Linked DNA regions of Homo sapiens. The protein of the gene in region 3 purifies or fractionates together with the protein of the main gene of each other region. This does not show direct contact. Each region holds a gene or a part of one and is shown on either strand. Other genes may lie near its edges. The genes, in order: CSNK1G3, EEPD1 and GJB7.

Region 1 (2,348 bases), on a different chromosome or scaffold from region 3:
GCCATGCAATGGTGTCTGTGTAATTATTTTGCTCTTTGATTAAAAAAAAGACCCCCAGCAATAAAAAGTGGGTCACTCTATGCCCTCTGTGCACATTAGTCTCTTGTATTCAACTTTGCTGATTCTCTGGAATTTTCCTACTCTTTAGCATAATTTTGATGATTGAAAAATATTTTGGAAAGGATGGGTCAGGTGCTTTGCCTCCATAGTCTTTTGAAGTGCCTGCATATGAACAACAACAACAACAACAAAAAATTCTGTAAAAAAGGAAGCCCATTCCACTTTTCAAGTATGCTTTGTTTTAAGCCATAAAGACACACATGTAGTTTTGTCACATTCTACTAGCCAAAATTTTCAAGAAGGGTTAAAACAAAGACTGGCTAGAAAGATAATTATTTTGAATAAATCTCATATTCATCTTTCATTTATATAATTGTTACTTATTCCTCCCATGCAGTCTCTTCGTTGTCTTTAAGTGTGTGCCTCCAGGCATGCTTATTTATTTTTATTGTCTCAAGGTAACATTTAAGATGTATATTAAAGTAAAGCTACATTTTTTTACTTCATTATTGCATTTACAGGGATTTAATTGTACTTTGTAATTTATTTTTCTTATTAGCCAAAAGTTTAATGCATTTTTTTTTGATGAATTAGGCACCCACATGAACACCACAAATCAGGACATTGTTTATCATTGTTGCTATGAATCCTATGAATGATCTTTTTTTTATTTTAAAGACCTACACTTAACCTACAAAACATTTGCTGTATAATTTGGTCAACAGTTTCTATCTATCTGTATACTGTCATGATGTCTTAAACTGCAGGAGTTACATACTGAGTTTATATTTTTATTTGCTTTGAGCAAGGTAGATAAACATTTTGGCCATTATAATGTGAAACCACTTCTTCTTTCTTTACAGTATTTGACCAAACTTGTGTGTCTATGATATTTGTAAATACATGCGAATATCTGTATTTCTTATCATAAGCCTATTTAGTTTTATTCTCAGTAGGGTTTTTTGGATTGTACAGTGTTTATATGATCTGAACTCCTTATACATAAGAAGGTGTGTATATTAATCCAATTATGGACTTAAAATATTTTAAAAGTATAAATACCCTTATTTGCTGCAAAGACCAGTGTGTAGGCATTTGCTTTTTAGCAATATTTTTAAGTGCTCCATTTTAATGCCGAGGAATAAGTCTTTTGGCAACACAAACTGGTCAATAATAGGTAATGCAGGTATGTTCAGGTTAAGCCAACAATGTTTTGCATTTTTATGCTTATTTTCTGTCAACACTAATGAAGTCAACATTGCCTGAATGTCTGAATAATGAAACACATCCCTGTTTAAAAGTATGTAACTGAAAAAGAAATAAAAAAAAATAAAAGTAGTTTTTTTAAACTTGCTCTTTCCCATTTCCTCTAAAGATGGGTAAAATAATGTCACTCCCTAATTTAAGATAGGAATTATAAAAATTTGGTTTATTTAGTCTGTTATATATGAGAAGCAGAGCTAAAGGAATATGCTTTTGTTATTTTATGTTTTGTTTTGCTTTCTTGAAATCCAGTGGTAAAAAGCACACACTAGGAAGGATCTAAGCTTTCTTTAATATAAAAAAAATTATACTTCTCTGAACTGTTTAATAGAGCAATAATTAAATACATCTTCTGATAAATTAAGGGAAATAGCATCATTTTTCCTTTTTGAGAATGGAATCATACTATTATGTTCACAGAAATTAAGCATTATTCCAGTTTTAAGTGAATGACTTTAAAATCATTGTAGATGGGGAGCCCATATTTCTAACAGTATCTCATAGTTCATCATTGTGCTAGGTGCTTTAAGGGATTTTACAAAATGGCATTAATGGTACGCTACTTACTGAGGGATGCTACAGGTAAGAAAAGGCAAAGCAGCCCTCTCTCACCCTGTGAATATTGTGTCCATTAAGCAGCAGAGACCTTCAGAAGCAGGAGAAAGATCTGGAGATGACACAAAACTGTTAAAGGCTCTATTTAGAAAAATTCGACTTTAAGATTGGGATTTCAGTCTGAATGAATGTATAGTTGCATTAGTCAGAACTCTTTGAATTGAAAGTGACAGAATTTAACCTGGCTTGAGCAATAAGAGTGTACATTATTTCATTTAACTGAAAAGTTCAGTGGTAGGACTGCCTTCAGACATGCTTAATCCTGGAGTTAAGACAGGAATCTTCTCCATATCTTTTGGTTTTGCTTTCCTACCCTGCTGTTTTCACTGTCAGGAAGACTTTCCATGTGTCATGGTAAAGTGGTCATCCAGCAGCTTGAGACTTCTACCCTACCATCTTAGTAGTCTCAG
Region 2 (3,661 bases), on a different chromosome or scaffold from region 3:
GGCTGGGTGGAGGAGCCCTGACGCCTTTTGGATTGGCTCTACCTCTGGCCTCAAGCCCCATCCTTTAGAGGAACAAAAACGGGAAAAAACAGAGGCCCCCAGAGGCCTGACACAATCTCAGGGTTGTAGGGAAGCCCTCCTTTTCCCCAAGACCCTGATACCTGGCCAGCCAAAGGCAGGGAGGAAATGTGGGTGGGCTGGGAGTCAGAGGCAGCAGAAGGGCATGGAGTTTGGGAAAAGACACGCCTAATCTGGCCTAATCCCTCCGCTTTGAAAGTAGACAAACTTCAAATCCTGACTCCAATATCTACATTTCTGAAGGCCACACAGATGCTATTTAACCTCTCAGAGCCTCAGTTTCCAAAAGTGTCAAAATGGATTTCACAATTTCTACTTTAAGAGGATTGATGGGCATTCTGTCCCCAGATGTTACGTCTGGCTGCATCCACCCACCCTTCAACCTCCCAGGGTGAGCCTATTGTTCATATGAGAAAAATACAACCATGTATCAATCACTCCTTTTGACCTGCCCCAAAACTCTAGGTTTACTAGACTGTTTTGAGGCTGGGCCACACAAACTAATCTACATTGACTTAAGTTTGGTAAGTAACAGGGCGAAGCTGATCCCTGAAATTAGCTTATATATGCACACAGCAGACATTCAATACATATTTTTCAATGAATGAATCAAATGACAAGATGGGATATGTTTATATTGATCCTACTAATCAAGTCTAATAAAGTAAAATCTTTTTTCACTATCAGTGCTTGTTGCTAGGCATTAATCCACCTTGTGCTTTGATATCACAGACATGTGGCAAAAAAATTGATTTAAGCCATTACAGGGCTAAAGACTTTGACACTCAAGTTCTCTTCTTATGTAGGCCACAGGGAAAATGAGCAAGTGGGATGTTAAATCTTCTTATTTCTTTTGGAGATTATCTTTCAGCTCCCTTAGGGTTTATACTTTCAATAACCAAAGAGACTCTCAAAACAGAATGACTTCCCAGCAAAAAATAAATAAGTAAAAATGAAATATTAACCAATTTTCATTCCAGATGTGGACTACCTCCAAATTTTGCAAGCATATTTAGCAGGAACATTCCCCTTTAATCTTGTTCCATAAATACCGAACAAGGAAGAGTATTGCCTAAGACTGAGATTTGGCAAAATAATCTAATGAAACCTGTCAGTTCTGTGCTACCAGCATGGCATCCCTGAAGGCTCCTGGTGACTGTATGATTATCAAATAATGCTGTCCTACCTCACGCCTCACTTGCAAAACAGTTTCTTATAGCTCACACATGCTGTAAGAAGGTTAAAGAGAAGACTCTAACTCCCATCCCATACAGCTACCCTTCAGCCTAAGAAAACACACCTACTAAAGCAAATTCACAGCCAGCTATTCCCTTTGCAAAGGAACTGCCTAAGGGTATCTTTAAAATCCCTTTACAATGGATTTAATTTAAGACACTGTGACTGGCTCACAATTTAGCAAGTGCGCCTGATGAGGGAGAGGATGGGTGTCTAACCAAGAGGCAGGTTAAAGGTGTCGTGCTTACAAAACACAGCATGCTTGCAAAGGGCATAGGTCTAAAGTGAGAAGGTCTGGGTCGCAGTCCCAGCTGAGTCACTAAGGAGCTGCCTGATAGAGTCATGTCATCTAACTTACTTGATTTTAGTTTCCTTACCCAGAGATGAAGAATCATTAATAAAAGTCAGTGTTACCTACATCCCAGACTTACTAGGAAAATCAAGTAAATGGGAAAGCTGTTAGAAAGCACGAAGGCATACCCAAAAGTTAGGAAACTCTTTTATTACAGGTACACATGGATGTAAATAAGAGCCACCCAGAAATCACCTGCACCCATTCTTGCTCATACTAAATGTATTTCCTCTTACTAATACGGGAACAATTGGAAGGGGAGAGATTTCTGTGAATCAGGACGAACACACAGCTCTTGGAGAATGGGTGCTGCTATCATTGAGGACACGAGATCTACTCTGTGACAGCTTTTGATACCCTAGGACAGTCATACAGACAAAGCACTCACCCTACTCTGAAGGGGATCAGGCCCTGAGTCCATTAGTTCATGTTTACTAAACATTAACAATGTGCTAGGAGTGTCTGGAATACTGAATCCATTGTGACCAGGCAAAGAGAACCATCAACCTCCAACACATTTGGCCAAGAGTGAGAATGTGACGGTGCGGGTCACCTTCCCAGTCACTTACAGGTGATCCCTTCTACACCCTGGTGGGTTTGGGTAAACTTTTCCTGTACTCTTGCCTGACGACAGTAGTTCAATGTCTTCAGCAAATCATCATCTCTCTAGGAAACCCAAAGAAGAAAAAAACAGGACAACCTTCACACTGGACAAGAGTCGTGAGGTCTCCTGCTCAGTGGGCTGCAGGGTGGAGCCAGCGCTGAGGCCAGCCGTCTTTGCTCACTCTCCTATTCTCTACCCTTCACATTCATAGGTCCTAGAAGATGAATAAGCTCCTCAACGCTTGGTCAGAAAGAATATCACAAGGTTGAATAATTATAAGGATGATCAAAACAATCAAAGGGGAAAATAAAAATGACAGTTGTACCTTGGTATCTGCAGAGATTGATTCCAGGAGCCCCTGTGATACCAAAATCCATGATGCTCAAGTCCCTGATATAAAATGGCATATTATTTACATATAACCTATGCACATCCTCCAGTATATTTTAATTCATCTTTAGATTACTTAGAATGCCTAATACAATGTAAATGTTATGTAAATAGTTACCATACTGGATTGTTTAGGGAATGACAAGAAAAAACTCGACATGTTCAGTATAGACACAACTTTTTTTTTTCCTGAATATTTTCCATCTACAGTTGGTTGAATCCATGGATGTGGAACCCACAGGTATGGAGGGCCGACTAGACCTGGAAAGTTCTGCATGAATTCACTAACCCTGCCAGAGGAAGGGGCTTCCAAGAGACAGAGGGACAGCTGATTGCCTAACACCTAGTACAATGGTTCTCAAACTTTAGTGTGCATCAGAACCACCTGGAGGGTGTGTTAAAACACAGAAACAAAGTTTCTGAGTCAGTAGCTGATGTTGCTGGTCCCCAGGGGGGACCACACTTTAGAAACCACTGACATAATAAATAGGCAGGGGCTGCCTGGTTGGTCAGTCCCACTGGACCAACTTTTGATCCTAATCCATCACCCCCCTCCCAAATTGAGCCACTAGAAAGCATAATAGGAATTAAGCAGCTTTGTCTTTCCTGCCTCTCCCCTCCTCATTTCCCATTCACACGCCCATGCTGCTATGGATAAAGAGAACAATTATCAAGCCATTCTTTATAAATATCTCCCGGTGCCGAGTACAGCTCTCACCTGTGCACAAGAAGACTTTGCAGAAGGAGTGAGTTAGGCTGCAAAAGAGAGGACACAGCAGTGCAGGGAGAGCATTCAAGGGCTCCCCAGTCCAGTTCCCTGACCCAGTGTGGAGTCCCTCTCTCAGTGATGAGAGCATGCCACTGGGTCAGTGCCAAGGAAACGTTGTGACCTGCTTTTCTCCTCACTAATTTTCCTGGTGATCTGCCATCATGCACTGTGATTTCCCGCTGAGAGTTCACTTCGTGTCACCAAACTGCTGCCCCCCCGCCGCCAGCCTCAC
Region 3 (3,661 bases):
AGAGACTGTGTTGCTAAAAGAAAGGCAACAAAAAAAAAGTGACTGATCTTTGAATATAATCAGAGGATGATGGCATCAAATGTCATAATTATGACTTTTATTTTATAAATGTCCATCCTATTTTTTTAAAAAAATTTTTTTTCAGATGGAGTGTTGCTCTGTTGCCCAGGCTAGAGTGCAGTGGTGCAATTTCAGCTCACTACAACCTCCGCCTCCCGGGTTCAAGCGATTCTCCTGCCTCAGCCTCCCAAGTAGCTGGGATTGCAGGTGCCCACCACCACGGCTGGCTAATTTTTGTATTTCTAGTAGAGACGGAGTTTCACCATATTGACTAGGCTGGTCTCGAATTCCTGACCTTGCGATCCGCCCACCTCAGCCTCCCGAAGTGCTGGGATTACAGGCATGAGCCACCGTGCCTGGCCCCTATTTTCAAAGGATGGAAAGACAATGGCATTCTTATTCTTTACAATAAGAATATACAAAATTAAATCTGAAAAAAATAAACCTAATAAACACTATGAAATCAGAGACCTATCACTCTTTCATATGTATATATTTGGTTCTTGTAACAATTGGAGAAAGCTGTTTATAGAATAATGTTTACAAAGCAAGCCAATTAACGGACATCTGGAAGGTTACCATGTCGGAAAATCATATAGTGAATCCTTTTAAATCTTTCTTGCCTCTACATATATGTCAATGACTCCCAAATTATGTATCTCCAGTGTGGACCTCTCATCTCTGACTTTCAGCTGCCTTCTTATCATCTCCAATAGGATGTCATCTCATAAACTTAAAATATTCAAAAGTGAAATCTTGCCAGTACTTTCTTCACTTTATGAAGCACCATCCAAAGCACTGATCCTTCTCAGTGTTCTCTGCTTCAGTAAACTGCACCACCATCCGCCCAAGTGTTGAAGCCAGAAACTTGGAAGTCATTCTTCATCCTTCTCTTTGCCTCAAACCCCACATCCAATCTACATTCAAGGCCAAAGTTTTTACCTTTGAAATACATACCAAAACTTTTCACTCTTTTCATCTGCGCTTCCACCACTCTAATCCATGCCACCTTCATCTCCTGCCTGGAACACCATAATAGCTTCCTATCTGTCACTCTGTTTCTCATTCTTGCCCTCTCCAACCCATTATCCATTCAGATTAACTTTTAAAATGGAGACTGTATATTCTCATTTCTCTGCCCTACCATGGTTTTCTGTTGCATTGAGGGTAGGGGAAAAAAGGCCAAACACTTATCTGGACAACAATAGCCTGTGTAGTGGTGCCCATGCCTGCATCTCCAACCTTGTCTTGCACATCTCCAAAGGATACTGGATTCCAGACATGCTTTCCTTCCTTCAGTTTCTCCTTTAGACACTACATCCATTCTGTTCCTCCTTCCTGCAATACTCTGGTCCCCTTAACCTGAATCAGAGTGGCTTTCCCTGACCCCACTAATCTAAATTAGGTCTTCCTTGGTATTCTTGTTCATTATGTTGGCTTTTTTTCCCTCATGCCACTTATAAGTTGTAATCATATACTTGTTTTCGTGATTAATATCTGTACAGACCACATGTTCTTTAAGAGAAGGAACTAGAGTTGCCAGATGAAGCAAAAATGTAGAATGCACAGGAAATTTTGAATTTCAGATACTACACATAACAATTGATTCTCATTACGCCAATTTACCAAGCAAGCTTCTGAGTAATAATTTTTTTCATGCTGAAATTGTTTATGCTGTGCAAGGAAGTCCTCCTGAAATTAGATACAAGAGTTCCAGTTCCTGGAGATGCATTTTATAGATCAGGTCTCTGGGCTTGGCTCATGTGGATGAATCCCTTAGAATAGATTGAGTAAACAATGTGCCTGACTTTCTGAACTTTTGGAAATGAGTGCCAGTTCTGACTGTGGTGACACTGTTGAAACCCCTGTTGAGCAGCCCACTTGTTCTTCTCTTATTGCAGGATGAGCTTTGCCACACCAGCAACTTCTTGCCCAACACTGGAGGCTTTAACTTCCTGCGAGGTTCAGGCAATGTCAAGCTGGCCTCTGGGAGGAAGACAGGCAAGGCTACCTGCATAAATACTGTCCAAAAAGCCCTTGCACTGCTGGGAGCCAGAGAGCTGCTTCGTCATTCCCCAAAAGTGCTGGTTTGAAACTTGTGTTCGAGGAGCACTGGATTTCCAATTGCCTTGCAGACTGCCAGCGACACTCCCTGAAAAATCCTTCAGCCTTCATACACAGCTCCTTTCACCTCTTAGTAACAAAATGCTCATCCTTGGGCACTTGACCATTTATGCAGCATTTCACAGCATCTCATCCAATGCTTACCTCCATCCTCAGTAGTAAGCAGGATGTATGGTACAACCTTCATTTTAGTGATGGAAGAACTGAAAAACTCAAAGAGGTGGGATACTCATCCAACACTCCCAATAAGTCAGTAGCAAATCCAGCAGTAGAAGAACCCAAGTTCTGCCTGGCTAGTTTCTACTCTCCCCTGAGTGCTGGATTCTCTGGTACATTCATAACTCTGTTCTGCCTTGCACACAAATCATCTAACCCCTGAAGAAAAGCATTTCCTCCCAGGGGCATCTTTCCATCTCTGAGTCCTGTTGTGCCTGCTGACACTAGCAAACTCTCATTCCCCATCTGAATGAGGCATTTTTATTTTTGAAGATGGCCTATTTGGAAAATCCCTAAAACAGTGTTTCCCAAACCCAGGATCTGTGGCCCACTGAGGGTTTGTTGTTATATTCTTAAGTGTCTACAAGAAGTTTATATGTACGTTCATATTCCTAAGCTTTTAAAAAACAAACAGAAAAGCAAAAAAGCTGAATGACCAGCTCATATTTAAGGACTGCCAGAGGATTTCAGCATTTCTGCACTCATATTTATGAGCATTCTGCAAACTACACAGCACTCAGGCCCAATCCAGTCCACCACCTGTTTTGTAAATAACACTTTTTGAGACTCAGCCACGCCTAAATGTTTACTGTTGTCGATGGCTGCTTTCATGCTAGAACTGCAGTGTGGAGTAGTTGCGACAGAGACAGTATGGCCCTCAAAACCTAAAATATTTACTATCTCGCCCTTTGCACAAAACATTTACATAGTACTTAAAATCATAATGGAACCAAGTACCAGAACTTTAATTATTTTAGCCTATGAGAAACAACACATAACGGGTATGCTCAAGAGAAAGCCAAATAAATGAAGCCACGATGGGTAGATGTACAGCAGGAATGAAGCCTGCTAGTAGTTTGATTGGAGACGAGTGGTAGACGACAAACAAGCCATTACCTGGCCCACAGAACAAGTGAGCCTAGCTTCAAAGAATCAGGCTTCTATAGTCAGTAGCTGGTTCTCTCAATGAGCAGTGATTTAGTTTCAGCAACATGATGTCTTTTGTCTGTTAAACTTTAATTATTTTAATTGTACTCGTTTTGTAATGTTCAATTTTTATTTTGTAAATATAGATGCATAAGAGCCATAAATCTACAAGTAGTTTTAGGTTTGATACATGTAAATAATTGTATATTAAAAAAATAATATAAAAAACACTTCGACACTAGGAATCCATGAAATACTGAGTAGAAAGAACAGTACCCACATAGGCCAACACATGTGCATACACACCACTTGCAAGGTTTTTAAATTTCCTGTA

Evidence for each region.
Region 1: the proteins of GJB7 (region 3) and CSNK1G3 purify together in Homo sapiens (affinity purification with mass spectrometry; 2 studies listed by BioGRID and IntAct, with this or other methods). This does not show direct contact.
Region 2: the proteins of GJB7 (region 3) and EEPD1 purify together in Homo sapiens (affinity purification with mass spectrometry; 2 studies listed by BioGRID and IntAct, with this or other methods). This does not show direct contact.

What each region holds. Positions count from the first base shown.
Region 1 is NC_000005.10:123,615,363-123,617,710, forward strand, and holds the end of CSNK1G3 (casein kinase I isoform gamma-3), read left to right. Parts: 3' UTR 1-1,687; downstream 1,688-2,348. UniProt on the Homo sapiens protein: Serine/threonine-protein kinase. Casein kinases are operationally defined by their preferential utilization of acidic proteins such as caseins as substrates. It can phosphorylate a large number of proteins. Participates in Wnt signaling.
Region 2 is NC_000007.14:36,156,167-36,159,827, reverse strand, and holds part of EEPD1 (endonuclease/exonuclease/phosphatase family domain-containing protein 1), read right to left. Parts: intron 1-3,661.
Region 3 is NC_000006.12:87,287,779-87,291,439, forward strand, and holds part of GJB7 (gap junction beta-7 protein), read right to left. Parts: intron 1-3,661.